Linked DNA regions of Homo sapiens: region 2 is linked to region 1. The links come from fine-mapping of genetic effects on gene expression. A gene starts in region 1. The other region holds a variant in brackets. All regions are shown on one strand. Distances are between the middles of the regions. Region 1 holds the start of CLSTN2 (calsyntenin 2). Region 2 has its middle 100 kb from the start of CLSTN2.

Region 1 (16,396 bases):
TTAACAGTTTTGACTGGTTCTTCCTGAAAATTTATGGGCCTGCAACTGCTGCATTTTTTGTGTAACCATGGTGACTACCAGCTGTGTGACACATGCAGGCTACACATCAAAGAACTGGGAAGAGACTCACACTAAATTCAAACTTCTCCTGAAAATATAATTAACTAAATTAATAAGACAGTATAAAGAAAGAAAGACGTAGAGTTTTGTTTTGGGGTTTAAGCCTCGAAGATTTCTTAAATATGATCACCTTGTTTTTGTAAGCGCTTTATCCTTTCAAAAGGCATACAGAGCCACTTCCATTTGAATACTTAGAACTTTCTTGGGTAGAGGAGGTGCCATTGTGTCCTTTCTGCATGTGATAGAGACTCACACCCAGAGGGGCTGAGTGATTTGCCCTGAACCTCACAACTCATCAGTGGATCTAGGTCACATGAGTCCGAGACCATGACCTTTCTTTGATACTCCACAGTGGTTTTCTAGTCAGACTTGATTAAGACTCCAAAGTTTTACCTAACTATATAATACAGCAGACATCATAGAGATGCAAAGTGGCTGAAGTCACAAAAATGATGTCTTTTTTTTTAACTGGCAATTTTCACATGACAATTTGATGCAGTGATTCCATAGAAATAAGTCAAATGTTAGCCAATTAAGCATTCTCAGAAGCAATGAGAAAAACACCGACAGCCTTTCTGAATGAGAATTCCACTGGTATCTGCCGGCCTGACTGTTTAATACATTTCAAGGTGGTTAATGTTCTCTTGACGCATGTGCGGAAGCGAGTATTTTAAACCACTACGGAGCAAATGCTGCAAGTTGGTTTGGGCAGATAGTCAAATAACTAAAAGGGAAAGGCCTGATGGGCAGCTCCTCCCCATGACCAAAGGAAGGAAGCAGTGCTGACGGGAGAAGGTACATGGGCACAGAGCCCTGCAGGATTTGCAGCCAGCGTGGGCAGCAGCGCCCTAGCACCAGTCACCCCCTCAACACTCAGCATTTGCTCTGGGCCTTGGACAGTGCTGGGCAACAGTCATACAGAGGTGAGCAGGGCACTTCCCCCTCCAAGGGCTCACAGCCACCCTGGGAGACAGGTGGCAATGGGAGCTTTGACAGAGAAAATAAAGGACTGGTGGGTGAAAGACAGAGGAGCACAGCCCCCACCTGGAAGTACCACTTAGTTGGCAGAAGCAGTAGAGTTTGCTGGAGTGGTTCTCAGTCTTGGCTGGGCACCAGAAATACTGGAGAGCTTCACATAGATTCCCAGGTGCTGTCCCTGAGCAATTACAACAAAATCTCTGGGATGGGTTCTGGGCATTGGTGTTATTTTAAATCTCTCTCAAGTGGCTCCACTTTGCATCCAGGGCTGGATAAAAGGGGGGACTCTGAAACTAGACTTTCTAGATTTAAATCCCAGTTCTGCTGTTTTACTACTTGGGTAAACTGGATAAGTAGCTTAACCTTCCTTGCCTCAGTTTCCTCATCTGTAAAGGGGATAATAAGAGTGCACATCTCACTTGGTGGTCAGGAAGGCTGAATGAGTTAATATCTATAAAGCAGTCAGAATAGTGCTTGGTGCATAGTAAGTTCTTGAAAGATGAAAGCATTAACTATTTGGAAATTTCTAGAAAGTTCACTGACAGGAGAGAAGGCCAGATGGGCAAAATCGTAGACTTTTACGCCAGGCTGGAGAGTTTGGGATCTATTTTGGGAGGTCTGGGGCTTCCCTGGACAGGTTTATCAGAAGGGGTATGGCTGCCTGTTCTAAGAAGGAGGTTTGGGTTGTAAGGATGAAGGCAGAAGTTCTCTGAAGATACCTCCAGTCCTGGCCTTTGCTCTGTGAATGCCTGAGCCCCTAACTGAGGTTATGGTTGGGATGGGAGAGGTTGGAGGTGGGTGGCTTTTGTGTACCCACCCTAAAACTGAGACGAGCTGATTTCCTTTGGGATGGGAACCGGTAGCCTGTTCCAGCTCCCATCCCCAGATGGTGATAGCACCCCTGGGGAAGTGACTACAGAATGTGGCATGAATATTAGATTCTAGGTGCTGGTGGTATCGTCTGTTGCCTGTGGAAGTAGACACCCCAGGATCTCAAGGCACCATGCTGTTTGGACAATGGGCATCACAAGCAGTAATAACCTGTGAGGGAGGGAAATCTGAGGCAATTCCAGAGTGTTAAGCTATTCTTAAAAACCTTACAGACCTTAGCGTGGAGGGTGAAAGATAGAATTCATGACTGAGATGGAGTTTCTTGCAGGCCTGGTGGGACTGGCATACATGCTGCCACCTTGACAGCAGCATAATGGGAGGGTTGGAGAGGGGGTCAAAATTAGAATTTAGTGCTTTCATTTGCACAAGATGCTAAACAAGGCAGAAGCAATGGGAATTGAGGAGAGGTTCTAGATGGTGATGATAGGATCAACCAGACATGAGGAAGGATGGGTTGTGATATTTGTGGAGAGACAAGCATGCTGGAGGACTCTTGGGGGCTCTGGCTTGGGTGAATGTATGGATGATGTACCTTTCACCCAGAGGCCACAGCAGAAGCAGTAGATTCTTGGAGGAAAAATGAGAGCTTAGTTTGGGACATATGGGGCTGCGGCATCCTAAAGGAAACAGATACTGAGTGAGCCTTGGGTGGGGTAGGAGGCTCAAAGTGAGCTAGGGAAAAAAAGTATTGATCAGGGGCATCTCTGGCCAATCTCTGGGGAGGACTGATATGAGTAGAGGGTCTTGAGCTGGAGACAAGCAAGATCCTGAGAAAGTATTGGAAATAAGTTGCCTGTCCTTAGAGTTAGAAAACTGCTCAGTAGTGAAAGAAATGGGCTTCAAGTGGCCATGGTCCAAGATGTCACCTAGCTCACCACACTGGCTCGCTGGTGCTGGATTGCAATCAACTGCACACAGTCTGACCCCTTGTCCTGATTTTTGATCTGCTGCTATATGCCCTGTAATGTGCATTTACCAATGTGTAAGAGGGGTATCTGAGAACAATACAATGGGCATATATAAAATCCTGCCGTGAGAGTGGAAGAAAAGGCAGCCCGATCAACAGTCTGGTTATCTGCTATTCCTATATGATCTCCTCCCGCCCTTGCCATGCACACCTCTCAACATCCCCTTCTTATCCACTTTGTTATCTAGCCACCTAATATGTTTAAAAGTATGTATCCTGGCCTAAAACGGAGTCAGAAGAGGGCAATATTTAACCCAAATGAATAACCGAATCAGGAGAACTGTCGGTACAAAGGCCAGCCAGCTGGGATAGTCTTTCTGGTGCAGGAGACCCCTCCAAACACATCTGGGACTATACAGTGCAGAAGGCTGCCTCCTCTGCTTGAGGCCAAGCATGACAGGAGGTGAGGAGGGCTTCAAGCTGTCTGGATGAGAAGAAACAGGTATTGCTCACTTGGAGAAGTGAGTCAGAGAGTGAGGCTTTCAGGGAAACCGATTCTTTCAGCAATTTTGAAGTAAAATCCAAGCAAATATTCTTGGACAGCAAGGCAATGCCTTCCAGGGCAGCAGAGCCTCTCTGACCTCACTCAGAGCCTTCCTCAAGCAGACATCACATCATTCTGAATAGGTAAGCCTGTGTGAAGAGGGGAACCCATGCCTACCAGTGTATTCTGAGTTTGTAACCCCAGTTTTACCACCTCTGAGCTCTGAGACTTTGGGCAAGTTACCTCACTTCTCAGTGACTCAGTTTACTCCTCTGTAAAAATAAGATTGTAGATTTACCTCCTTCATAGGGTTGGTACGAGGATCAAACCAACCGACATATGTGAAGTGCTTCAAGATAGTGCTTGGCACATAGTATGAACTCAATAAACATTCACTGTTTTATTAGCTCTGGAATCTGATGCAGAAATAATATTTGACCTGGCTGAGCTCCCTCTTCACTCGTGCCTGTGTGCCAATCACTCTTACCACCTTGTATTTACCTGTCCAGTGCAAACCCCTGCCCCTGACATATGCTTACCCAATGCCTACCCACCCATCAACATCCCTTTTACTTTCTCCATAAGTCTTTCCTGACCTCTATTGTTGCCAACTTCTTCCTTTCCTGCAAGGCTTCGGGGGGTCTGTGATGCACAATCTATGATTTTCCCATAAGTCACCAAGTTCTGCAATAGTTTGTGTGATGTGTGATGTGCAGTGTTTGCCCTAGACAGAGTGTGAACTCTTTGATAATTGGAACTTGCTTTTATCTTTTTGTTCCCCTCACAGAGAATAACAGGAGGCTGAGAAATAGTAATTGGCTGAAAAGGCTAGAGAACAGGACCTAGTGCATGTCTGGAAGGGCTAACTCTCATTCTAACCATTCTCCTCTGACCAATACTCCCTCTGGCCTACTGCTTGTTTCTTTCCCAAATCTCAGAGCATGATCCTCTGTCCTACACAGTGCCAGGATCTTCAGCTCAGTGCTCTTCCCCAGCTCAGGCCTCCCCATGGTCTACCCTCAAAACCTGTCTTTCCCAGGGAACCATTTCCACAGGGTCCAATTAGTCATGGGTTAGATAACAGCTAATAAAACAATCATCGATTTCAAGCTGTTATTTGAATATCATAGCTTCAGTTACCCCATTCCATATAAACATGTATTATCACAAAACTTGTCAATACCTTAAACAAAAAAGTATGCCTTTCTGTTTTCTCAGGTAGCAGGGCTTGGAGGAAAGTATGAACTGGGCAGGAGATCTTTCCTTACAACCCAGATCACACCACATAAGCTCTCCCTCCAGAGACCAGAACCTCCCACACCTCTGGCACTAGCACATGGAGACAGGCTTGTTTATTTACTTAGATAGCAAATATTGCTGACCTTTACTCTGAGCTGGCCCTGCACTAAGTGCCAGGGCCTTTGAGATGAATGAGATGGAGCTCTGGCTTCAAAGACATCCATAGACTAGTGAAAAAAAGCATGTCTTTTTACAAACAAGTCAAGCCAAATGCGTGTGTATGCATGTGCATTTACATTTATATATGATATTTACACACAGGTGCATATCCACACAAGGAGAGAGAGGCAGAGAGAGACTGAGAAACAGAGGAACGGATAACAGTTTGAGCTGAGAAAAGATATGAACAAAGCTATTGGATTTCTAAGAGATCAGAAAAAAAAAAATTCACCAAATCTCAGACACTAAACTAACTGTTCAAGTGATCAATAATTAGTCATTGTATATTTAGTGCATTTTACATGCCCCAAACTGGGCTAAGTGCCCTGACAACTATTTTACAAGGTAGATCTCTGTATCCCCATTTTAGAGATGAGGAAACTGAGTCTCAGATGGGTTAACTAACTTGTCCAAGATCATCTAACTAGGAAGCAGTAGGGCCAGGTTTGGAACTCAAGTTTTTCTGGCCATATGCCCAAATTTTACTTTATAGAGGAGAAGGAAAAACACATAAATTGTCTATGTCAAGAAATGACAGCACTAGGGATTACAAACAGGTGTGTTCACCAAGCAAATCACTGCATACTGCTCATCTCATATCTTGAGGCAAGGCTCTGGAGATACCAGGAGAGTCAGAATGAGCCTCTAGCACTGGTCTTTGAGCCCTGAGGACTAGAGTCAGACAAGGAAACACAGGCATGCAGGAAAGAGAGGCAAGTCACTCAGAAGTAACCAGCCTGGGAAGGTTCCTTATGGAAGGCCAAATCTTGAGTAACAGTGAAAATTGGGCTGAGGAAGGTGACCTACTAGCTTGATGCCCAGAGAATCCAAGAGAGGTAAAGGGCACATTCCGGTCCAAGAACCACAGGCGTTTCAGGATGGCAGCAGGTCAGAGTACACTTTCTGATGCATTGCTGAGGGCTTTTTGGCATTTGTGCTTCAGTTGGAAAAATGACTCTGTTATACCACTAGAAGACACCTGCTACTTACCCAAAGATGACTTAGAACAATCCACCATAAAAATTCCACACTACCTTTGCCCCTGCAGGAAGTTCTGCAGTGTGCAATCTGGAATATTCAAGGATGGTTTTTGAATCTGTGGGAGAGAGAATGAGGTGACTGCTCTAAGCGAGAACATTGGTTTCCATGGTGAGAGCAAGGTCCGTTTCCCTCACCTCACCTGCATGCCCTTTTAAACAGCCTTAGACACTCATACTGTGCTCTTCTGTGGGCAGGACCACAAGGGCTCCTGGGTAACTCAAAGATGCAAACAGCTCAGCTTCCTTGTGGTCCCTAGACCTGCTTTCAAAACCACTGGGAAGACTATCTGACAAATAGGGGGCACTGGGTATAGTGACCTTTATATTCTCATCCCAGTGCCACACCCTCTAGCTGGAGGTCTTGGCAAGTTCATTTACCCTCTCATAGAATTTGTTTCTTCATCTGTGAAATGGGCTAACACTGGCTCTGCATGTGTTGTAAGAGTTAGAGATTGCCCATGTAATGGGATTAGCAACAGTGCCTGTGACATACTAAAGAGGGACTCCATACACTGAAATTACTACAATTACACCATACTGTTGTTATAATTCTGCTCCATCCTCCTCCTTACCTATTACCACATGCTGCTTTTGTAAACTTTGTCTCTGCACTCCCATCTCCTTTGCCTGTGTCTCTATCACAGTCAATACTATACTTTGGACAAATTCTCTCCGCTGCCACTCTCTTAAAATTTTCACATAAAAATCTTGTCTCTCCAACTAAAACAGAAGCTCCTCAACCCTAAAACTTAAAGTATAATAATAATAAAAATTAAAAAAAAAAGAAAGGTAGGGGTGGGAGGGGTGGAGGGTGGTCCTCTGCTACTGGCTCAGAACCAGAGCACTGAGCAAGGCTCTTAGCACACAAGGCGGGCACTACAACAATTGATGGTCTATACTTGAGTATTGTTCCAAATGACCTCTATGCCTAGATGTTGGGAACTTAAGAAGGACTGTGTACCAAGTCCTTGAGGTCTTGGGACCACTGACATTTTGCCAAATTTAGCACAAACTTTGAGGTGTTGTCTAGATTGCATTGTCTTCCTTCCCTTGGATAAGACATGTCTTTCTCTGCCTCCAGAAACTCTTTGGGTCCACAACACCTTACCAGCTTTACTCATAGAACATGAGCATGTGATCTGGTCTCTTCATGGAATCCAAGAAGTATTTATCTTTTTTGAATAGCCAAAATATGTAAGGGTGAAGGGAAGGAGTTATAATTGCCTGGCCACTGTGTGATTTCTGAAATTGGAAATATGTCTACACTGAAAGTACAGTGATTCTGTGAAAACCCCAGGTAGTTGTCCGGGATTAACTGCTCGAGTCCCTAAAGCAAGAAGCAAGAAGCAAGAAGCACAAAGGCAGAACAAGCTGTGCACCACAGACACAACATCTTACACAAGACTGAAGCTGGGAGCACATGCTTCCAGACAGTTGTTTGGAGGGTGCATTCAACTCTGTCAGAAAGCTTGACTCCAGACTCCCAGTGTTTTTCTACACATGAATACAGAATTGTACGAAAGAAGTATCTGGTTTTTTGTTCAATCTTCACACGCCTTCCTGATTTTTTTTTTTTTTTTTTTGTGATGGGAATAACAATGGTATGAACCTTAAAAATGGCAAAGTCAGAGGCAGGGTGCATTATACACAAAACATACAGCTTTATCATTTCAAACATTCTTCAGAGATCATATGATTTGGAAACATAAAATGCAAGTGCATTGTTATAAGGAAAGTCAGTCCTGTAAATACTAACTAAAGTGTCATAATAAATGTCTCTGTTGTAATCAAATATTACACATTTATCTTGAAAAAAAAATCAGCAGCAAACAGAGCTCTTTGCAGCCCCCCAGTGGTTGGAAGGGGAAAGAAGCGAGAACAAGGGGAATTCGGACAGTTAACTCTCAATCTGCAGGGCCAATAAACTTTTTACCCTGGAAAAACAAATGTCTAGTTTGTTTGTTTGTTTGTTTGTTTTTGAGACGGAGTTTCATTCTTGTTGCCCAGGCTGGAGTGTAATAGCGCGATCTCGGCTCATTGAAACCTCTGCCTCCCGGGTTCAAGTGATTCTCCTGCCTCAGCCTCCCGAGTAGCTGGGATTACAGGTGCGTGTCACCACACCCATCTAATTTTTTTTTTTTTTTTTTTTAGTAGAGACGGGGTTTCTCCATGTTGGTCAGGCTGGTCTCGAACCCCTAACCTCAGGTGATCCGCCCGCCTCGGCCTCCCAAAGTGCTGGGATTACAGGCATGAGCCACCATGCCCGACCTGACAAATGCCTAGTTTTAACCAAAAAATGAATATGTTCTAAGTCGGATGTTGGTTAAAATGCACATAATTATCCACATAAAGTGAATCATTGAAAGCCTGGGGTTTTTATTTTCCTTTTTTATCTCTCTCCTTCTCTTTCTCGCTTACCTCTATGAAGCTTCCCATTCTGACCTGAGAACTCAGCCGTGCATTATTACTACTCACACCAGATCCTCTTCCCAAATGATTTCTTCCCTGTTCTGCACTTGCTGTGTGCTTCTCACCCTCCTTCAAACTCCCGTTTGCAGACATCTGCTTATATCAATTACTGTGCTACAAAGTGATGGGAAATCTCCTCCCCCCCACCCCCCAAAAAAGTAATTTGCCTGTTTAACAAAGTGTCTATATTGGGAAAGCAGGGGGGAGATGTTTGGAAGTTCATTGTTTTTTATTCTTGTCTTCACCAAAACAACAGTCTCTCAGCTTGATCCCTTCATATCAGCCACTTCTTTACCGCACTCTGAGATATTTTCATAACGAGTTTTTCTCTCATGAAATTTCTCATTTCTAAAAATAGAAACTGCCTGTCAAAGATACACCAAGAAAAAAAATGCTGAAAAGAAACAGAATGCCTGCTTATAAAATATTTTCAAAACGATGACACCAAAAAATTTAAAAATTACAGATAAACATAATCTCCCATGTTCTTCTCAAATATATCACTCCTAAGTTATTGGAGGGCCAGTTTCTAAAGCCCAGACAAGGCGAACTGCCTGCCTCCAGCTCTCCCCAACCTCCAAGAGTAATGCAGCCTGATAGGCATTTCCTCCCCTAAGCTAGTGGTCAAGTGTAGCTCAAAGCAAGCGTCCGAATCAGGCTGTCTCTAACAGGGAATCTATTTTCTGACAGGCGCAAACCCCTCCGCCCTCTGATGATTGCCAGGCAGGATTTGGGGACCAAGTACCCCTCATTGTCACCTGGCGGATTTGGCCACAGTCCACAAACCAAACGCAAGCCCTACTTATGAACAGCGCAGAGAATCAACAAGTTATCACTAAGCTGTGCGCCCCAGCTAGGATCTGCCACAGCCTCCCCTGAGCCCACCACTGTTCCCCACCAGCTCTGCTCTTCCCTCGCCTCCCCACCCCCTGCAAGCACGTGACCTCCTGTTTCAGACCCGGCCCCCCACCCCAGAGCTCCCGACGCTCCCAGGCAGCTGTCAAAGTCCGGGGTTCGCCGGCTTCCAGGCTCGCCTGACAGAGCCAGGCGTTCGCTTGGATCTAGCTTCCTTCCGGGCGGGAGGCGCGGGGAGGTCAAGCTCTTCAAAGGAACAGGGTGGGCAGGGGAGTGGTGCCAGGTTAGGCTCCTCGGTCCTCGGTAGTCAGAGCGGAGTAGGAAAGGCAGCGGGGAGCCTCACATCCCGCGCTTCTTCCGGACCCCGCCGCCTACCCGGAGGGTACACGTTCCCCGGGGAGTCAGAGACGCCCTGGGGGAGCTTGAGGAGTGTCAGCGGGGCCTTCCCTGGAGCCTACAAGTTTCCACTCCATCCCCGAGCTGGGAGACAAGTCACAGCTCGGCTCCCTCCTTGAAAGCACCGCCGCTGATCCTTCCCCCAGGCAGGAGCAGACACCTGCTTGTCCCCACGGCGCGCCAGCGCCCTGCTCTAGCCGTCCCTGGGCCAGAGCTCGAAACTCACCCACTGCGCTCCCACCCCGGCACAGACAGCCCTCAAAGTTGTCCGTACTCCCCAGACCTCGCCTTCTGCTCAGCCCCCGGACCCCGCCCAGGGGTTGAGTTGACGTCCGCGGGTGGACCTCTCTGGTCCGCTGCGCAGGGAACTGACTTCGGGAATCCAGGGCGCACAGAGGCCAAAGAAGCTGCGGCAAGGGAGGGTGGGCAAATCCAGCTTGAGCCTAGGTCCTTGCCGCTTTCACCCTCAAGCCTGCCCTGCCTCCCTCCTGGGAGAAGAGCAAACTTCCCCAGCACCCACCTTTAGCCGCGAGGAGGCGGCGCTGCCGGCTGTCCCCGCCACCGCCGCTGCCGCTCCCCACGCCCAGCGCCAGCAGGAGCGGCACCCAGCACAGCCGCCCAGGCAGCATCCTCGCAGCAGCCGCCAACGAGCTGCAGCCGCCGCCTACTGTCCGCGCCGGCTCTCGCCTCCCGGTGCCTGCCGCACCGTGGGCCGCCTCGCCGTGCCCGATGGGTGCGCTTCTAGCGCTGCCGCCGCGGCGCTCGGCCTCGGGTTCCCGCCGCTGCGCCGCTAGCTCGCCGGCAGCAGCCGCGCTCACTGGCGCGGACCCGGAGCGGCTCAGGCGCTCACCCCGGGACGGCCCGTGACGTCACGGAGGGAGGGAGGTGGCTCGTGCATATTCATGAACGCGGGCATCGGCGCCGGGTTCCGCGCTCCCCGCCCCAAGGCCCCGACCCCCAACTTTCCTCAGCCGTCTCCACGCTCCGGGGCCCTGTCCAGGTCCCCCTGCCCAGTCGGGACCGGGCCCCCAGAGGACCCTGGTGGGCGGCTCCGGAGAGCCCTCCAGCCCCGCGCCTCCACTCCGACTCTCGGAAAAGCTGCCGCAAGGGATGGAGGGCTCCCCCAGAAAGTGGCCACCCGAGGCCTGAGGGTCATCTGGGGTGGCGCGAGGGACCCTGACCTGCCATGCCCTTTGAACTGATATCTGGGCGGAGAGGACTGACGGGCGTCGCTAAGGGTCTTGCCCTTGGCTGGGTCTCTGGGCGTTCTGCGTCGACTGGTCTGGGGAGGGCGCCAGGCGCACACTAGAGCAGCGCCTAGTGGTGCTAGGGGTTGTCGGGCAGAGTAGATAGCCTTGGACCTGGATGGCAATGGCAGGGCTCCGCGTCATCTCCGAGAAGCAGGGGCAGCCGCGGCTCTTAGAGGCTGATAGAACAGCTAGATCAGAAAACTTGGGGTGCTGGGCCTGCTGAGGCTGCAGTGGCGGGGGCGGGGTGTCAAACTTAAAATTCCCTGCGGTATGGTGCCATGCAAGAAGTTGCCACCTTTATGTTGTCACTCCGCATCTCTAAGAACAGGCTACTTGACGTCATGCATTGTAAAATCTCGTGCCGTTGAGTATTGTCAGTTCCCTGAGTGCAGGAGCCAGTGCATATCTTTGCATCCTCAACCATCTCTAGGCCGTGAAAAAATTACAAAGGTACTCAAAAAAAAAAAAAAAAAAAACAGTAAGGACTCAGAATAAATCCTTGACCATATTTACCTAAATGAAATGCCAACATCACACACAATGCAGGGTTTATGAGGAATAGTTTGGAAATAAAGTAGATATGGAAATACAGAAACAAACAATATTATTTATTTAGTCATTGATTCAAGACGTTTGCTGAGCATCTAGACAGGCTGTATCACCCTGACAGTGAGCACTGGATTAGTCGTTGGAGATCCAAAGACAGAGGAGAGAGTGGGTCCTATCCTCAAAGCTTTTGTTCCCTGCTTGGGGAGCCAGAGAGGGCAGCAAAGGCAATTACAATCCCTTGTAAGTGTTATGGTCCTGCACATTCTTTATGTTGCTAGCTATGAGCCTATACAAATCAATTAACAAAATGTATATATTGCAAGAGTGCCTAAACAGCATCCTCTAATTAATAACTGTAGTTTGAGGTACTCAACAAAGCCATAAAATCCATTAACAGCACTCCTGCAGCTCAGCCTCCCTCTGCTGCCCTGGCAGCTCACTCAGAGCCTCTGCAGTGGTGAAAGCCAACTCTTCAGGATTTCAGGCACCAGGATGTGCTTGGGGACAGCAGTGAATCATGGTGGCTGCATGGGGCTCAGACCCATGTGGGGCTCTTTACCTTCAGGTCTCCTTTAGCCCACAAATCAACATGTGCGCTATTATTCTCATTTCACACATGATGAAATAGAGGCTCAGGGAAGTTAGGTAACTTCCTTGTTCAGGGTCAAAAATCTAGTAAATGTCCCAGGCCGACACCAGGACCTTGCCTTTGTCAGATGTTGGTTTCAGAATCTAGAAAAGATGGCATGGAAAGGTGGTAGCTGACCCAGGGAAAATAAAAAAGCCAGAAAATAGAAGAGAAATGTAAATTTGTCTCATTTTCTTCCATTTATGCTCCACCCAACTACATATCTGCCCTCCTCCCTTCATTTTCTCTAATAAGTAGACCTATCTTACTGACTTACCTGCACTGTTCTTTGATGTCATTATACTGGGCTTTGTTAAGATCACTGATTGGTCCTAATAATTTTATGTGAAGTTTCAAATTCAGACCAAATAATGAGAAACAGGGGGAAATGTAGCTTATTAGGAAGCATCTCCATGGAGAGATAGCCAGGAAAGAACACAGCAAAGAAAAACACTAGGGGGTGGGCCAGTTACCAACAGGCACAAAATTGCTAGCCTCCATCTCCTCCTCTACCAATGAGGGTAATAACAATGCCTATTGTGGTAGATCAAGTGCACTAATGGCCATTTGTCCATGCTTCTCTGAATCTGTTTCCTTTGGATGTGCCCTCCCACCCCAACTCTGAGCTAGGCCATATGATTTGCTTTGGTCAGTGGGACAGTGGCATGCATGTTGCTTCTTCCTGCCTTGAATCCCTGCTGCTGACATGAGAACAAGCCTAAGCTAACCTGCAGAAGGGTAGGAGACTGCATGGAGTAGAACTGAGCTGTTTCAGACAGCCAAGGTCACACTAGGCTGGTCAGAACCAACTGGCCTACAGGCTGGCTAACCACAGACACATGAGCAAGCCCAGGTAAGCTCAACCAAGATCAGCCAAGCCTGGCTCACATCAGAACTATCCAGCTGACTTATGAGATACAATAAGTGGTTTTTGCATTAATTCATTATGTTCTGGAGCAATTGATTGAGCAGCATTATGCCTACTTCATAAGATCATTACAAGAAGTAAATTTTAAAAATATGTTAAACAGTATGTTGCACATAGTCAATGTTCAATAAATGTAAAAATGTCTTCCCCTTATCCTACTTCCTATATCTCTGAAAACAAGTGTGCCAGTCACACATTTGATTTGATTCATTTGGGGAACAGGCAACAATGACCTGCCTTAGAGGAGATAAAAGTAAGTAAGTTCAGCCTTAGAAATACTCAGACATAAGAGCTTTTAAGTCCACATCATTTGTATGGAGCACTACTGTGCTGTCTGCTTCTGCTGGGCCATTGCAGATGCAAAAGATGGGGTAAAGCAACCTAACAGTTAATGAGTCCTCATTCTTTCCATGCCAGGCTTTACAATGGAGGATATACATTCCACACCTACACCTTCTTTAATCTTTGCAACAAGTGTGCTGTGGTTTGAATATGTGTCCCCTCCAAAACTCATGTTGAAGCTTAATCCTCAATGTGGCAGTATTGAGAGGTGAGACATTTGGCAGGGGGCTGGTTCATGATGGCTCTGCTCTCATGAATAGATTAATCTGTGCATAGATTAATATATTAATGTGTCAATAGATCAATGGGTTATCATGGGAATGGGACTGGTAGTTTTATAACAAGAAGTAGAGAGACCTGAGCTATTACATGATGTGATGCCCTTTGCCACCTCTACAGAATCCACATGAACAAGAAGGACCTCACCAGATTTGGACTCTCAACCTCAGGCCTCTCAGCCTCCATAATTTTAAGAAATAAATTTGTTTTCTTTATAAATTACCTAGTTTCAGGTATTCTGTTATAAGCAACAGAAAATTGACTAAGACAATTGTGCTATTTTCCCTATTTAATCATAATCAGATTACTGGCTCAGAAAGTTTGAGCAACTTATCCATATTTGCATAATTGTGCAGAATATCAATTCATGTCTGCTTAATTCCAAATTTCATCTTTCTCCCACACATCATGACTTTGGGAGAGGCATGCGGGATAAGTAAGCAACAAAAAATAGTTTCAAATCAGAAAAGATAGCTTTGGGGATTTGATTTTTAAAAAACCTTTATCTATCACTACCTCTGATTAAGGACCAATTTAAATAGCCAACTGTCACCAAAGTAGAGATACAAATCTCTGAATATCCATTACTTATTCTGGACTTAGTATTGTGGCATATTCCTCTAAAGATTTTATTCAAAAAATGGTGAACAGGGCCGGGCGCGGTGGCTCATGCCTGTAATCCCAGCACTTTGGGAGGCCGAGGCGGGCGGATCACGAGGTCAGGAGTTCAAGACCAGCCTGGCCAACATGGTGAAACCCCATCTCTACTAAAAATACAAAAATTAGTCAGGTGTGGTGGTGCGTGCCTGTAGTCCCAGCTACTCGGGAAGCTGAGGCAGGAGACTCGCTTGAACCTGGGAGGCAGAGATTGCTGTGAGCCGAGATCATGCCACTGCACTGCAGCCTGGGTGACAGAGCAAGACTCCATCTCAAAAAAAAAAAATGGTGAACAGGATGATGTAAAGCTTGGTCACTCTAAGCCTCAAGTCTGGGGCACCACCTGGCAGTGTAATAATGAATCTCAGGTAATTTATCTGGGTCAATAGTTCTTAATAAATAAATAACTCCCCTATTCCAGAAAATAGAATCTAACTGGCATAGGCCCCATATAAACATAGCCATTTCCTCTCATTTCACCAGGATCATTAATGCGTTGCCCAATTAAGCACCAAAACACAGGCCCTAAATAATTTAAGCTGGGTAATCAAAGAAAATAAATAAATTATATATACTTATGGAAACTTATTTTTAAAAAGAAAATTAAACTGAGGCTTTCTCCATGACCCAGATTTAATTCAACTAAAAGTACTTAACTTTAAAAGAAAGGTTGAAAAGCTGATCTTTACAGAACTAGAGTCATTTGTCATTCTTTTTTCCCATCTTGACAGGTAAAACTGGGGCTTCATGACGCTTGAACAACTGGACAGTTTGCAGATTTTTTAACATTGTTCTTGGAAGTTTTTACGCTGTTGCTGCCAAAGGAACTTCTTTTAAAAAAAGTTTAGGCATTTCTCTTCAGGAAAAAGTTAAAAAAAAAAAAAAAAGCTTGTTCACAACCAAATCCAGTTCAGCATTGTTTGGACATGAGTGTTTTATGCTTGGCAAGGTGGAGTGCCCTGGCTGAAAACAAAGATATCATTAATAATAGCAAGGCATTATTCCAGTACACTTATGTATACTTTCCTTGGAATTTTATGCCCTGTGGTGTTTTGCTTGTTTGTTTTTTTAAGCAGCCATAAAATTCTGTGGCTCTTCCTCCATTGAGAGATGGAATCTATATCTCTTCTCCTTGAATCCAAACAGCCTTGAATCTGAGCATTGTTTCTATCAGTAGACTGCACCAGCAGTGATGCTGTGTGACTTCCCAGACTAGATAATAATGGTGATGCAGCATTTGCCTTGCTTGCTAGGATGCTCACATATGGAGGCTGGAGCCTCCATGTAAGAATTCTAACTACGCTAAGGCCGCCATGTTTTAAGGATCACAGGCCATGCAGAAAGGCTGTATATAAGTAGTTTACAGCCCCAGCTGAGTCCAACATTTGAGTTATCCTGAAAGTTCCAAATAATTCTTCCCACTATGCCCTGCCCAAATTCCTGACCCATAGAATCCATGAATGTAATCAAATGGTTGTTTATACCACTAAGTTTTGGTGTCATTTATAATACATCTAGAGGAAATAGAACATATTTATTTTCATTTGTTCCCTACAACAAAGGCTGGGAAAAGATAAATATTATATTTCGAGGCAAGTCATGTGTAATTAGTCCTATTTTGTAGCTCAGATGTTGAGACTTGTAGAAGCCAAGGCAAGGAATAAGTAGAGCTTAGTGGAAAGAAAATGATTTCTAGAATCAGACAGACCTAAGTTGCAAACCTAGCTTTCCTGTTTTCTAATGATGTCTGACTCGAGAAAGCTACTTACTCTGAACCTCAGTTTCCTCATCTATAAACTTAGACTAATGAAGCAGGTTGTTTTCAGAGTAAAATGAACTGTAAACTGCTGAATTCTTTCCATGCCAGATGGTAGGGATACAGTAAATAGGGCCATTGATAGTTACAATGGACACTCACCCAGGGCCACACAGGTTGTGGATAGCCTTTTGCCTGACTTGATCCAGTATTTGGTGTTTTCTATGCAGGTAAAACGTGGACAGATATGGACACACATGACACCACAGAAGCTCCAGCCCCACCAGCACCTTTGCCAATCCTGCCACAGGAAGCACCAGCCCACGTGCCCTGCCAGAGCAATTCAGAT
Region 2 (16,396 bases), 110 kb after region 1:
CTGAGTGACAGGATCATTTGTACTCCAAGCCTCAACAACACACAATTTATCCATATAAGAGACCTGCACATGTACCCCCAGAACCTAAAATAAAAGTAGAAGAAGAAAAAAAATAAAAAACATAAACTCAGGTGAACCTGATGGACAGTGGGTTGTTCCCTCCCAATTTTCCCCTTTTCTGCTTAGTTGTTCTGAGCACAAGTTATTCCTATTCATTTGGTGAGGATTCCACCACTTGCAACCAATGTGCCTGGGAAGAGACAAACACACTTTTGAATCATAAACGTGTAAACCTAAACTTAAAATATTGTAACATCAGAAAAGGTCAAGGGTCGAGGCTATTTCAACTCTAGTATGCTGTCAGCCAAAGGGGAATCTGGTTTCTACCCTTGGAAAGGTCGTTCTATCCCAGAGCATCTCTGCTGTCTGGACAACATTTGTGCCAAGCAACCTCCCTAGAGTGAAAAGCACCAGGACTCCCCTGAGGCCCATGAACCAAATGTTTTTGTGCCTGAAATCTCCTTCCAAGGAACACAGGCCCTCCTGGCCCTCTGATTACACTTGATAGAACAAGATACAGTAAAAAAGAAAGCTTCATAATGATGATGCACTGCTTACTGCTGCAGCCATAAGGAATGAAAATCTCACTGTGGCCTAATTTATAAGACAGGCAGCCACAGCCTAATTTTGTTTCAAGGTAGAGACATTATTAACTTGTGACCCAACCTAGGAGCCAGGCAGCTGTGAAATGATGTTTCAGGTTAAAAAAGAAAAAAGACTCTTCAGAACATATTGCTGATAAAATGTTTACACTCAGTTTAACAAATTTCATAGTAATGAGGCTTTAAAAATGGGTTTCTCATGAATGGCTTTGTGATACTGAATGCAAATAAAGAAATAATGAGTTTGGAATTGCAAACAGATTACTTCTGTCCTGGAGTTGATGGTATCAGAACATTACCCACTGTAGCCAAACCCATAGGCACGGATTTCCAGAAGATCTTATAAACTGCATTTTGGCTCCCTTGTTGAGTCACATGGTTGCCACTGGAAAGTTCCATATGGCTGTAGGTGCTGTGGCAACAGACCAGACTTTTCAAACTAAAAAAAAAAAATCCTAGGAATTTGGTAGTTGGCCATGTCAGCACCATGGAAACAAGAGAAACTGAGGAAAGTGACACAACTCCCAAACCAACCTCAGCATATTTGGCATGGAATGGATCTGAAACAAGAGAGAATGCCAACTTTGTGTAGAAGAGGTGGAGATGCTATTTTAATCCAGAGAAACACAACAATACTTCTAAGCATGGCGGGGCTGGATGCCAAAGTAAGACCCACTTTCTGAATTGCCTTTTGGCCAGGACCCTGCAGACAATAGGAAACACCTATGTCTGTGAGGCTTTCTCTCCCACAGGCTCAGGACACACAAAAGAGGAAAAGGCTCAATTTAATTATCTATTATAATTCAAACTCACACCCAATATTCCTATGCAAGCTCAGTTACACAGCATGCTGCTGGCTGGTGGAAAGTCCAGAAGGTCAAAGGGCTGGCATTAGAGCAAGCAGGCAATTCTCATCAGGTACAGGGAATACAGCCACTAGAAGGACAAAACAATCAGGGCACTAGGTAGGGAAGCCAACAAATCCTGGCTTGCCTGGAACGTTCCTACTTTTAGCACTGAAAGTCTATGTACCAGGAAACCCCTCAGACTCAGGCAAACCCCTAGCATAAGGGCACTCAGTTTAGAAAAAAGCAGAAGCTGCAGCCTCCGCAGCCATTCCTGAATTAAACCAAAGGCAGGCAGGTAGAATTATGCAAAGCTCAAGAAAAGACTGGAAAGCCCCCTCACAAGCAACACTTACAGTGAATGTTGAGAGCTTGCAGAAACAAAGACGAAGGCATTTGGCACTGAGTGGAGGAAAACAAATGGATTTCCCAGGGCAGGCAGTTCTTGATCACAGAGAACCCACAGATGTGAACAGGTAAGGCTGCAGGAAGACAAGCCCAGGTTAACACACTGGTTCTGCAAAGTTCTGTGCAAGACTTGGAAATGGTGATCAGAACCCACTATGTATCTCTTACAGTCTATGCATAGAACTATAACGAGTATTTCTTTCTCCTCTTTGTGTGTGGATGAGGCTCAGTCATGTTCAATGTATTCTTTGGTCCACCTTACAAAGTACTTAATTAAAGAACACTTTTTGATCATGTCATAGGTGAATACCTGGATGAAGCAGGCTTGGCCTGATTATTAGAGTAATATTCTGGCTTAAATTCTTACAAACAGGATTTCATAAGCCCTAGGTAGGGCAATAGTGTTCTAGGAGGGCAAAAGTGAAGCCTCTGATGGATCAAAATGTGGGTTTACACATCATTCATTTCTGTCAGAAGCCACAGTGTAAAATCTTCAGCCATGACATAAAATCACCTTAAAAAAACAGTTTTTAAATACCACAAGACCTCATGTTGTTATTATATAAAAAATAAATATTATTAATTACCATTGTTATTAGAAATCGGGGCGAAGTTTGATTTATTATTTCTCTTACCCCTCCTGCCTTTTAAGACTCTGGCAGACAGAGGATATCACAAGGGATGCTAAGTAGAAGGGACCTGATGATGTTTTACTCACGGGCCAGATGGGTACACAGTAACTCCTAATGCACATGAACCACTGAACAAGCTGGGCTAAGGAGGAGATTTTCCTTCATTTGCCTCTCCCAACTTGAAGACCATAGGCCCCAAGAAGCTGAACAGAGAGTAAAGGTCCAGAGCTTGGCCTTGCAGTTTGGCCTCACCTAGTGCTGAGTGGAGAGCAAGAAAGAGTATTCAGGGCTGAAAACATCCCCTGAGGAGACAAGCAGGAACTAGAAGCTAGCCCCAGCTTCACTCACCAAGCATCCTATAAAGGCAAAAGGGGCACAATTGTCCCTGCACAAATACATCTACTCACCAAACCCTGGGCAGCTGTGCCAGATAGGACCTCATTTTCAAGCATTCTGAGGCACTTGTGATGCAGCTTGCTGTGTGTAAGTGTACTCTTAATAATCTCGCTTCACTTCCTGGTCAACACCTGGCCTGAATGTTAGCAACTCCACCGCCCTTAGAAGGATTAAGTTAGCAGATAGCAGAGAAAGAGAAGGCTCTTCTCTGCGAAAACAGAAATCAGGTGGGATTAGGGTTCTTCCCTGATTCCACCCAGGTTTTGTCTACTTATCTCATTGGGTCAACTTGCCAAGCCTGACCAGCCAGGGTACCTCTGTCCTTCCAAGGATGGAGGCCAGCAGAGGCACTCTACTCTCACAACATACGCTCATGCCTCTCATCACTACCCAGGGGCTAGAGGGAGGGGCAGTTCAGCTGTTACCTTCAGAAGCCTCTGAAATAATCAGAACAAGGCATTCAGTAAAATCACTCCAAGTCCTCACTGTACCCTGGGCCAAAAATTTATCCTGATTGTATTTTCCATCTCAAATTTCAAGCCACACTGTCCAATATAGCTCAGTAGAGGAAGCTGTGCCACAAACATCACATGACAGCATAAAAATACCCCAATGAGCACAATACCAGCAACTTAAAAATACCCTGAACTTCAGCCTTCTGGAGCCCTCTCCTTTATTAAATTCTAGGAGGAAAATCAAAGTTCAAAACCAGAGCTCCCTTCCCTTTGCAAATCAAAATCCAAAGAAATGAAAGGCCTTTCCTCCCTGAGACTTGGAGTCTCCCTCGTCTCAACCAGGGTAGCTTCCCTGCTGGAGTCTGAGTGTCTCCTTTGGGAGCAGCTGCTCACTGCGTGTCTACCCAGAATGGGTGTGACTCCTGAAGCAACAAGGAGGTCGGACTTATCCAATCCCAAGGCCCTCATGTGTCCTGGTTTGCAAGGGATATGAAAGTCAATAGGGTACACAAGAATATCGCAGCCCCAGCCCCAAACCTACCAAATTTAGCTGAGCAACATTATGTTCTCAGAAGCCATGTTTCTGTTGCCAGCCATGGGATGTAGCAGATGCTTGGTGACATCTGGGAAAGAAGAGTTGGAGAAAACAAATGTGAGACATAGAAAAGATTCTGAATTTCAAACTCACTACAGTTGCCAATAAGACTGGCATTTGCCCAGGTGCAGCCGAGCCTCCAGATTTTACTTGGGGTTCCATCTCCTTCAAATTTATAAAAACTCCTAATTCCCATTTCACGTCTGAGCCTATGTTCCCGGCACCCCTGGGGCTGTTTCATGTGTTTGGTCTCCCATGCCCTTTGCTCCTGCAAGCAGGGTTTGCCCAAGCCAAACACATGTGGCTCTTCTCACACTCTCTTTTCTGGAGTTGTTACCTGCAGCCTTGAATGTTTCCTGGCCTGGCCATGTTGGCTGCTGTTCTGCCTCCAGTCCAGGCCCTATGAATCCTGTCAATTAGGGCATTTTTCTTCTTAGTTTTCTTGACTCAGCTATATGAACACTGGGAACTGAAGCTGCTGTTCACATTTCCAGAGAAGACCATCTCTTCTGCCCTGGGCTCCCTTCTGAAACCTCACTTCTCCTCATCTTCTGAATTGTTCTTCCTGCCACCTCCTTTCCTGGGGCAGTGGGACAGGCCTCTCGCATTCCATTTCCCTCTGTCTGTCATTCTCTGGCTCCTTTCAGGCTCAGTTTTAAAATGAATAACCTGCCTCTTCAGTCAGCCTCTTCCCTTCTCTACCATGGGCAGGGCTAGTATTCTCTTTTTTTTTTTTCTGCCAGATCCTGGTGCTTTATTTTTTTATTTTTTGTTTGTTTATTTGTTTGTTTCAGACCCAGATGTTTGTGTTTCTAGCCTTCGACTGTATTTGTCAGGTATGGTCTCCCATAGCAAGAGAGAAAGCCAGAGTCAGAGGCAAAAGTTTCCATTTTCCAAATATGTCCTGCCTACCTTTGTCACTCTGAAGAAAGGAAAAACACCAGGGGGTATCTTCTCTACAGCCGTTCATCCAACAATCTATAAAGGCCTTGCTACGGGCTAGGAACTGCCCTGGATAGTGGGATACAGCAGTGATCAAAAAGAAGTCCCTGCCTTCCTGGAGCTTACACTCAGCAAACCAGTCCAACATCTAACCTGGACTTCATTCAGCTATGATGGTTTTCCTACCTGGCTCTGCTACTTCTTTTCCAGTCCAAGCTTCACATGTTTTTCTAACACATTTCTTCAAAACCTGTGCCGGGACTGCCTTCCCACTCAGATAAGTGCTGCACCTTGAATTTGCCTTCATATGCTTGAGTCATTCTCTTGGGCTATTCTCATCTTCCCTTCTCAACTCTATGCAGACTGTCTTTAACCTCCTTGTATAGCCATCTCATCTTCAAAGAGGGGTTCCCTAATTGCTTTTATCATGGACTCTTTCTAGCTAAAGCTTTTAATTCTCTTCTTAGCCATAGGATTCATAATAATTCCATCTTACTTTTGACACATCAATCCGGGAAAATGATATTTACATTATATAGCCAGAATTCTCATACCTGTTTGTCCACTCATGGATTAAAATCTGCCACTTCTCTGAGGAACAACCCCACATTTAGGACCCTGAATATACCGGGATGCTCAGACCATATGTAAGGAACAATCCAAAGCTGGTTTGAGAGAATAAGGAAGGAGGTGGTTTCAGGAGCCCAAGAACCAGACACAAGGATCCCAGGTTGACCCATAAGAATCTTTCTAGGTCCTAGATGCAGACTCCAAAAAAAAAAATGTATATGAGACAAGTGAGCCTGTGTCTCTTTCCCATACTCTAGTTCTCAATTCTCATGTGGAACATGGATATTTCTGGCAATTCTGAGTACCATGCATCTCATACAGGCTTTGGGTGAGTTGCTATATCCCACATCAGCCAAACACCATGGATTCCCAATCAGCTCACATCCTCTTTCAATCAGGATAGGCTACGTTATGTTGCAGTAACAAAAAGCCTTCAAATCCCAGTAGCCAAGCAAGTGCTTATTTCCCACTCACACTATATTAAGTCACAGGACATCTGTGGGAAAAGAGGGTCCTTTGCTCTATGTTTTCTTCATTTGGGACCTTGACTGAGGAAACGTCTCTGTCCTTCTGCAATTATAAATTATATTCATTTTCATCAGCATCATTATTTATATCTATAATATAAAAATGAACTGCACTTTCAGTCAAAAGACTTTACCTTAGTCCTGGCTTCACCACTCAATAACTATGTAATTTTGTGTCAATCACTTTCCCTGCCTGGGCCTCTGTTTCCTTGTAAAATGAGGGGATAAGGTCACAAATAATCTCTAAGGCCACTTAAATTTCAAAAATTCTATGTTTCTTCTACACTGGAAAGGATAGGGAACTAATGTTTATTGAGTATCCTCATAAGTACTCTGTAAAGCATAAAGATTCTCACTATATGGATTAGAAAACAGAGGCTTAGAGAAATTAGTAACTTGCTCAAGATCACACAGATAATAAGTAACAGGTGTGGGATTTGAACCCATGACTGTCATACTTCAAAGGATTTTTCTTTTTGTTGCATTTCATTCCATACATGATCTGACATTACACATACAGAGAAGGAGGATGAAGAAACGGGTGCAATGAAATGAGTGAAACACCTCGCCTCAGGGGCTAGCCTTGATGGGTAAGTGACCCATGGTATTTTTATTTCTTTGTATAATTCAATTCAATTTAACTTAGTAACAACAGTATTTAATACTTATTAACTGCCAGCTCCTGGATGAAATGCTGGATACACAAACACTAATTATGCCTGAGAAAGTAGGAAGCACACATATCCGTTAGGGAAATACAAACTACTCTGCATATTTCAAGAGGGAGGAATTTATCTCAAGAAATTCAAAACTCATAAAACTGGTGGGAGAGCTGGGGAAGCAATGGGAATGGAAAGCCGATGCTGGCTTTCAGGAAATCAGCAAGTGGGGAAAAAAAAGAAAAACATCAAAAACTGCCATCTCTCCATGCATCTATCTGCCATTCCTGGAAGAAATAATGATTTGTTATTTGCTTTTGCCTTGCAAATCTCATGCGCCAGTCTGTCATTTGAAGAATTTAAGCTGGAACTTTTACCTGTCTTGCCTCAACCCAGCCCCTGTTTTCTATCACTCCATGTTCTGCCGGCAAAGGAATCTGGACAATGTGCTTTCCAGACTTCCAGGCTCTGTGACACAAGAACAAGCTTAGAACGTCAGGAGGACCATTGAGTATCAACAGACAACAGCTAACACAGAACACCAGTTCTAACTGGAAGAGTCAGGAAAGTCTTCTGAAGGGTGACATCAGCTGAGCTTGAAATAAAATTCGAAAGGAGAAGGACCCTCCAGAGAAGTGTGTGAGTAAAAACAGTGACAAACGCTCCTAAGGAAAGTGAATTTACTGAGTTCAATCAGAACATGAAGTGGTAGGGAATTGGGCTGTTTTCAAGTGAGGTAGGTTAGCAGGGACAAGATTGCAGAGGACCCAATAGGCCATGCTAATGAGTTTGGACATTATCCAATAAATAATACAAAACTATTGAAGGCCTTTTAAAATAGAAAGTAATGGAATCTGTTGCATATGTTTATAAAGATCCCTCTCTCTGTAGGTGTTGAAAACCATTTGGGGAGGCAATAGGAAGACCAATGAGATGATTTTCCCATCATCTTAGGTGCCAGGTGATTGGAACTTGGACTTGAGCAGTGGCCATGGTAATGAGGACAAGAGAGCAAGTTTGGGAGACAGGACACAGGTAAGGCTGAGTGATTCGTGAGTTGTGGGAGTGAGAGAGGAGTCAGTAGGCTTCTGGCTTGGGTAATTAGAGGATGATGGAGCCATTCACTGAAGTTGGAACTTGGGAGAAGGAACAGGTTTTGGGGGTAAGGGAAATGGAGATTGCTGAGCTTGATTCTGCACAAGTTGAGTTTGACATGCCTGGGAGATGAAAAATGTGATTAACACCAACAAAGTGTGAAGTGACATCTTACCAGAGATAAGGTCCTCTGCTCAATGCCAGGAGCAGTAAGCTGCATAAGGCAAGCCCTGCCTTGGAGGAGCTCTGAATCCAATCAGCCCCTGAATGTCTGTGGTGCCAGAGGAGCGTCGGCAACGGAAACCATTGGGGGAATGTTCAAACCTCATTTAAGATGAATATTTTCAGTTCTACACTTCTACAGTGTCTCTAAGCAAAAATTCTCTGGAGACTTTCAAAAGCTCATTAGAAATGGGTATTCATTTTGCTTTCCTTCTGAGCCCCAAAGTTTTGCTACAAATCCAGGAGGAGAGGAGAAAGTTATTCCCTGCTTGATCTTGATGAAATCCCTAATGGTTAAAGAAAACAAATAATCAACTAGGCATTGAGGAATTTTAAAAACAGGTAAGACCCGGCTCAAGTTTTGGTCAGCCAGAGTCCACTCTATGTGGCAAGGTTGATGGCTCACTGGGGCTGAATTAAAAGTAAGAGTCCACTAAACCACTGGTGTGGGGATAAGGGTGACCATTTGTCTCCATTTTCCTTGACTTACTAGGTTTTGGCTCTGAATCTCCCATGTCCTAGGAAGCCCTTTGGTCCAGACAAACTGGGACAACTGGGCACCCTAGGTGGCAAGAATGAGGCTTCTCTCCAGACTCCCCAGAGCAGTTCCAGCTGCTCCCCCCTGACCTGCCTACCAAGCACTTGCCAACAAGGAGAGTGAAAAGGTGCCTAAATACAATCAATGTCAACTCCACTTTCTCTGTGAAAGCCTGGCTGACTGCCTTATTTAACGTGCAGCATCACCCCCAGAACACCAATCTCCTTTTCCTGCTTTGTTTTTCAAATTTACTCCATGACGTTTCTCAATTTCTGTCATAGCATGGAACATATGTCAGTATTGTGTCAGTTATTTATTGTCTGTCCTGCCCTACTAGAATGTAAACTCCTTGAGGGAAAGATTCTTCAGCGGTGTTTGATTCCTAATGTATCACATTTGTCTGGCACACAATAAGCCTTCCGTGTACATTTGTTAAATAAATGAATGAGTTAAATACACTTTCAATCTATAGCATTTTAGAAAGAATATGACCAATCTTGACTTTTTTTTTATTCAAATGGGACTAAGGAGACATTTGCACTATTTCAAATTCAAAACCGAATGTTGACACATTTAATTTTGCTAAACTCGCCAAGTGTAGCGGCTTTCTCCTGCCAGCAAGTTACATAATCTTTCAGGCACACATTTGAAGCACCAAGCTAACCTTCGCG[T/C]ATGGCAGCTGTGGAGCCGTGATTGTGAGGGGGCGTCTCTGAAGGGCCGGAGAAGGCAAGCCATCTGCTGCAGCACCAGAGACGGCCTGGGGCAAGGATGTCAGGCCTCCTGCGATGCCTCATCTTCCAATTAGCTCTCCCCTCACTGGCTGAGTGGGGCCTCCAGGCTTGTACAGCTGGAGCTGCGGATTGAATAGAAAGGTCACCAGCATAGTGACCCAACAGCCTGCCTGTGCTGGAGCTGCCATGGGATTGAGTGGGTGTTGGCATCTCCTACATGAAGGGGAAAGGAAGCTGTTTCCGTAGTCCCATTCTACAAGCCTGAGGGGAAAGTGGGAAATGCTCGAGGGAGCAGGCCGTTAGGTGTTCTATTTTCTATGCCAGGCTAAAATGGTGCTGCCCAGCTCCTCAAACACACTGTGCTAGTCTCACCGCTATGCTTTTGACACATGTTTATCTCAATACCTGCAATGTCCTTCTCCCTGTTGATAGCCTGATGAACATCTTTTTACCCTTCAAAACCCTGCAAAGACCTCACCTCTTCTGTGTGAACTTCCTGCCCATCTGCCAACAGAATTTGCTTAAACTGAGCTACTTCAATATAATAATAGCAGCAATTAAAATTTGCCAGGCACTTACAATGTATAATAAAATGTGTAATAGTACCCTGGCCATAGGTGTGTTTCCATGTTTAAGTCAGCTAATATATATACATCTGTTGGCATGTAATCCTCATGAAAGTGCTACAGAAGAAGTATTACTATCTCGGTAATGCCCCAAGCTTTATGCAATGCCCCATGCTTTCTGCATGAGCCCCAAGCTCATGTATGAAGCACTACACTGTGCCTTGCACATGACACCACCACCTTGCACTTTACTGCTCCACCTTCATTTGGCAACACAGCCATTTCCCTGTTAGACGTCCCTCCTTTAGGTCAGCTTCTGGGGTCAGGTTTGTGCCTCTTTAATTCTACATGTCTTGGGCCCTAGCTACAGTGCTTGGCCTGGAGTGGGTGCCAAGTAAGCATTTCATGAATTGAACAATACAGGTGAAGAGATGGCACAGTGGTTAGCTGGCCCAAATTGACCTTGCTAATTAGGCTAATTAGCAGTATCTGAAAAATTATGATGTGTTTGAATCTGCACTCACCAAATGGGCTCACATTTTCTTAGTTTCCTGTGATGTTATGATTCTTTGAGAAGGATCAAGCCTCCCAAGGAGGCAAGACACTGACAGTCCCTGTCACCTGAACCTCCTAGAGGTCCTCTGTGGTCCTGTGATACTGAGTGTTTGACACAGGGCCATGCACAGAGTGGGAATCAAACATACAACCACTGCCCTGCAGAAGCTGATGATCTGGTTATAAATGTATATGAACTCAGGGGTCAATGAGAGAATGTCCCCAAAGGGCTAGATCTGTGTGGGAGCCCAGCCCAAGGCAATAGAAAGCTATAACCAGAAAAGCTTGTGGACCCAAGCAGTTAGGAGGCAGGAGTGCATGCATGCTACTACACCAAGGGCAAATTTTTCTTTCCCCATGTGTCCTTGTCACACACCCTGTCCACAAGGCATCAGATAATCCAACTAAGAATAGAAGAATGAGAGAAGACAGAATTCAGGTAACATTTTAAGCTTGACACATAACAAGTGATACACCTGATAGTCTACTGAGTCCAATTCTGTGGGTGATCCAGTCCTTCCCCTCAGACACATGGATTGCTGGAGAACCTACTGTTCCCTTTCCTATAGAAAATAATGGCATTCAACCTGGCCCAGCATCAGCACCACAGGAGGGCTGTATCCTGGGATGTCGGGAAACACTGCAGGTTGCCTGGGATTCCTCTTCTTTCCCCTAGCTAGAAAGATCCAGCTCATCTATGCTTGGCCAGGACTTTTTTGTTCTTCTCTTTGGCAGAAGAGCCAGAACAGGGGAGTACAGGTGGTACCTGCTGCTCTCCTTCTCCTGAGAACCCACCTGTTTGCTCATAGGAGGACAATTTTGAGATATGACTGAAGATGGAAGTCACCACCCTGACAATAACAACTGTGATAATAATCACATTCATATAGCACCTACCCTGTGCCAGGCACTGTTCTAAGCACTTTACATACAGTAACTCATTTACACCTCACAATGACCCCTGAAGTGTGTATGTATTACTATCTCTATTTTATAGATGAGGAAACTGAGGCACAAAGAGACAAAATATCCAAGGTGTCATCTAAGGGGCCCTACGACAGTCCTCCTTAACTCAAAATACCTCTTTCACTAATAGCTAATTTTATAATTAGTGCATACATTTATAGGATAAAAGAGCTCTTTTATGATAAAATGTTCCTATTAGGAAAAACCTAGGGTAACCATTACATGGATAAGAGAAGTGGCTGATACTCCAGACTTATGAATTTACTCCCTTCCCCATTATGTAACAGCAGTGTGACTCTGAACAAGTTGCTGAATTTCTCTGAGCCGCTGTGTAAAAGAGAGATAGAAATGAGTCATCCTGAGGATTAAATGAGACAGTCCTTTTAATATGCTTGGTATAACATGACATTCAATAAATGCTGACTGCTGTCATTATTAATATTATTGGTGTTATCTTGTTAAGAGTTTGTTTCTCTTCCTTTTCTCAGTGTCCCTAGCAGAGAGCAATGCCTTCCTGGGGGCAGGAGAGGTGCAGTTTTTATAAGAAGCGAGCAGCAAGAAATGATTTTGCAATCTAATTTTCTGCCCCCAGGAGGCCTGACATAGGACAGGGGACGGAAGAGGGTTTCCATGAGGACACTGATCCTATAAAAGAGGTGCCAGAAGAAGTAGGATTTTACAGAACATGGTGGGATGATCCAGACAGAAGCTTGGCCAGCTTCAGAAGTGTGTGGTTGTGTTTGGGCTTTCTAAGGAATGTAGGAGGCTTCAGCAGCTTCCAATGCTGCCAGCCTTTTGTTCCAAGACACACTGCAGACCCAGACAGAATTACCTTCACTTCAGCAGCAGCTGGGTGCCTGAAACATCAGTCCAAGGCAGAGGGGAGCTTCTCTGCTCCCACTTCCAGGTCTCTAAGGGTGTTTTTCTTTCCTTTGGGAAGACTATACTTCCAGGAGCCAGTTTTGTCATGAGGCCAGAGAGGAGGCGGATTTGACCAGATGGCATTGTGTCTTGTTACCAATAGGTTCTTATATAAGGTCCTCATGACACATCCCCTTCTAGAATTATGAGCCAAGAATGGGGGCAGTGCATACTAGGCACCCTGCTTACAATAATTGCTTTCATTTTACAGAAGATACACCCTGTACTCAAAGAAATTCGTCTTTCCCAATGTCACATCTGAATCTCAGATCTTTGTCTATGTCCAAGGCACTTTTTCCCTCCAGGATGGCACAGTGCTTCCCCAGATGTTTACTTATGCAAGGCTTGCCATTTTCAGGCACGGAGGACAAAACAAACAAGTGTACTTTCCTTTTTTCTTGGGATGCCATGAGCTTTGAGCTAAATTTAGAGTCACTATCTCTCCTACTGATTTCCTGGTATAAGTTCCTCCTTCCTTCTTTTATGTACTTTCAGAAAGCCATTTAGAAAATCTTTGCCTTAACTCTCCTCATTCATAAGTTTCCTTAGATTCTTTATGGAATATATGTAGCATGAATAACCATTTTTAAGTATTTACATCTAAACTTAGTGTCTACAAGGGCCCCTGATACAGACAATGTGTGTTTGGGGAGAGAGATGATCTGATTAATAGAATATTCTGTGCTGCTATAAAGACACATGCACACATATGTTTATTGCAGCACTATTCACAATAGCAAAGACTTGCAACCAACCCAAATGTCCAACAACGATAGACTGGATTAAGAAAATGTGGCACATATACACCATGGAATACTATGCAGCCATAAAAAATGATGAGTTCATGTCCTTTGTAGGGACATGGATGAAGCTGGAAACCATCATTCTCAGCAAACTATCGCAAGGACAAAAAACCAAACACCACATGTTCTTGCTCATAGGTGGGAATTGAACAATGAGAACACATGGACACAGTAAGGGGAATATCACACACTGGGGCCTGTTGTGGGGTGGGGGGAGGGAGGAGGGATAGCATTAGGAGATATACCTAATGTTAAATGATGAGCTAATGGGTGCAGTACACCAACATGACACATGTATACATATGTAACTAACCTGCACGTTGTGCATATGTACCCTAAAACTTAAAGTATAAAAAAAAAGAATATTCTGATGGATAGAGATATAAACAGGCTGTATTTGCAAGTGGAGAGGGAGGGTGGCAGCTTGCATGGTGTGATCTAAGGGGTGTGTAGGAGCCTGATGTCTGTGAGATGTTCTCCCTACTTCTGGCTGACATCTGATATGCCACCTTCAGAGTTTCATCCTTTAGCTAAAGATTTTCCTTACCTGTTAAACTTGAAATCCCTCAGGAAATGTGGGAGGTGAAAAGGAGGAAGTGTCCCATGCAAGATGATTTCAGACATGGCCAACTTGGTGGACCTCTTAGCTGCTTTTCTTAGGGTCATGGTCTACAAGAACAGGGCCACCCTAAGGGGTTCATTGAGGCCCCATGCCTGCACTGTGCCATCTGCCAGCACCATACCAAAGGGTGTTAACTGATGCATCCCGACTCTTCCTCCCAATTGCTCCATCCACAACCTGCAGTCTGCTCTTGCCCCTGCCAGTTTCTGACCCCATTCCTCAGGCTGCTATTCCTCACACTATCAAATTGGTGATTGTTTTAGTTCATTTTCTGTTGTTTATAACAGAGTGCCTGAAACTGGTAATTTATAAGAAATAAAATTTATTCTTATAGTTCTAGAGGCTGAGAAGTCCAAGGTCAAGGGGCCACATCTGATAAGAGCCTTCTTGCTGGGTGGGAGTGGGGAGACTTTCTGCAGAGTCCCAAAGCAGTGCAGGGCATCCCATGATGAGGGGGCTGAGTGTGTTAGCTCAGATTGCTATTTCTTTTCTTATAAAGCCACCGGCCCCACTCCTGTGATAACCCATTAATTCATTATCCACAAATGAAATAATACATCCATGAGGCAGAGCCCTCATGACTTAATCACTTCTTAAAGGCCGCACCTCTCAATACTGCTACTTTGGGGATTAAATTTCAAGATGAGTTTTGGAGGAGACAAACATTCAGGCCATCGCAGTGACATTTGCCCTCCCCATCTCAGTTTCCACATGCTGGGCCCTGCTCTTCTATGCCTGCAGCCCTCCTGTCCTCAAGCTGCCCCAGCAGTGTCCCCGTCTCCTCAACCTGCCTTTCAGGGGTGTCCCAGGCCCCAGAATCCACCCCCTCTCTCTTCACCCTCCATAGAACACAGCTTTCGTTTCCCTCAGTGCTCTACTTCCAGGCAACTGACAAAAGGAAAGTAATGTGTTTGTCTAATGTGCACAGGGAATTGGATGGCAGCTAACATCTTACCATGTTATCTCGGGTAGGATGAAGAAGGAAGTGGGGTGGCAGGATGTCTTCCCACACATGGTGAACTCTCACCTTTACCAGACACCCCTTCTTGGTAAGGGGAACCTCATTCCACCCAATGGCTCAAGTCAAAACAGAGGAACCACTCCTGCTTACTCCTCCAAATCACAGCCTCTATCTAACTGATCACCCGATCGAGCTCTATCCCCCAAATTCCCTCACCTGCCCTCTATCTATCTCCATGGCCTCCATCCAAGGCCAGGCCTCCAGCACCTCTCCTCTCTCACTGGATAACTCATGATAGTCTCCTAACCAGTCTCCCGCTTTCCCCTTGACCTAGTACAATCAGTGCACCACAAAGGAGCACAGATGGTCCACTTTAGAGCACAATATACTCCCAATCCAATTCTTCCCAAGGCTTCCCACTAATACCGATTCCTCACTCACAAGGCCATGCTTGATCTGGCCACTGCCCACCCACCTCTGATCTCGGACCATCCTTCACCCCCACTTCACACAGTTCCGCTGGATTTTTTTCTTTTCTTTTAACTTGGTAAAATTCATTTTCAGCTCAGGGCCTTTGCACTTCCTGTTTTTCCTGCCTGGTCTCCACTCACAGTTGTCTCCTTCTTGAAGCTGAGCCTCAGTGTAGATGTCTCTCCCCAGAGAAGTTTTTGCTGAACACCACTCTCCCTAGACCTCTGTCACCTCACCCTGCTGTGTTATCATCAGAGTACTTAGCACTTCCCAACATGGTCCTATGTATTCATTGCCTGTCTCCCCCAGCCAAAATGTAAGGTCCATGTTACAGGGCCCCTTTCACTGACGTATCCTCATGCCCAGTGCTCACTCATGTATGATGGATGTAATAGAAGGAATTAGGCCTTGGGTTAGACAGCCCTGGGCCTGAACCCTAACATGCCCTCTAAAATCTTAGAAAAGTCTTTTAATCCCTCCAGGCCTCTGTTTTCTCCTTTAGGAAGCTGAAGACAGTAATATTTCTCACGGGCTGCTAGGAAGATTGATTAAAGAAATTGAGAGCTGTATAGGGCCTATTGAGGCCCTAAGTACATGAAGACCCTCAACAAGTAGTCACCTCTCTTCCCTTTCCTGCTCCTTTGCAGGTTTTGGGGGCTGTTGCTTGCATACCTGGTTATCACTAAAAGGTGTGTACCTAAGTAAGTGGGAGCAGAGAACCACACCTGGTTAATGGAATTAGAGATCTATAGTGGGTTGGATAGTGTCACCCCAAAATTAATGTCTACCTGGAACCTCAGAATGTGACCTAACTTAGAAATAGTCTTTGTCCCAAGCATAGTGGCTGACATCTATAATTCCAGTGCTTTGGGAGGCCAAGGTAGGAGAATCACTTGAGACCAGTAGTTCCAGACCAGCCTGGGCAATGCAGTGAGATCCCAGATCTACAAAAAATAAAATAAATAAATGACAAATAACAAGAAAAAATAGGTATAATTTAGATAAGGGTCGAGATAGGATCGTACAGGATTAGGGTGTGTACTAAACCCAGTGAGAGTATTTTTAAAAGAGACAGAAAAGTACATGCAGAGACAAGGAGGAAAAGCTGATGTGATCATGGAGGCAGAGACTAGAATACTGCACCTATAAGCCAAGGAACACTGAATGTCACTGACAACCACCAAAAGCTACAAGAGGCGAGGAAGAATTCTCCCTCAGAGCCTCCAGAAGGAACCAACCCTGCTGACACTTTGA

The links. PIP is the estimated chance that this variant, and not a neighbour inherited with it, causes the effect. A credible set is the group of variants that fine-mapping cannot tell apart.
Region 2: its variant is the best candidate, but not a certain one, in a credible set for the expression of CLSTN2 in lung (TOPMed, PIP 0.75).

The regions. Positions count from the first base shown.
Region 1 is chr3:139,929,266-139,945,661 of GRCh38, reverse strand. It overlaps CLSTN2 (calsyntenin 2), which reads right to left and starts at 10,477. Exons shown (of 17, transcript NM_022131.3): 1 at 10,179-10,477. The coding sequence starts at 10,287. RefSeq lists silencers at 10,330-10,389, 10,430-10,479.
Region 2 is chr3:139,823,919-139,840,314 of GRCh38, reverse strand. No RefSeq gene overlaps it. Among named protein-coding and RNA genes, the nearest start is that of CLSTN2, 100 kb to the left of the region's middle. The variant T/C (reference allele first, on the strand shown) is at 9,218.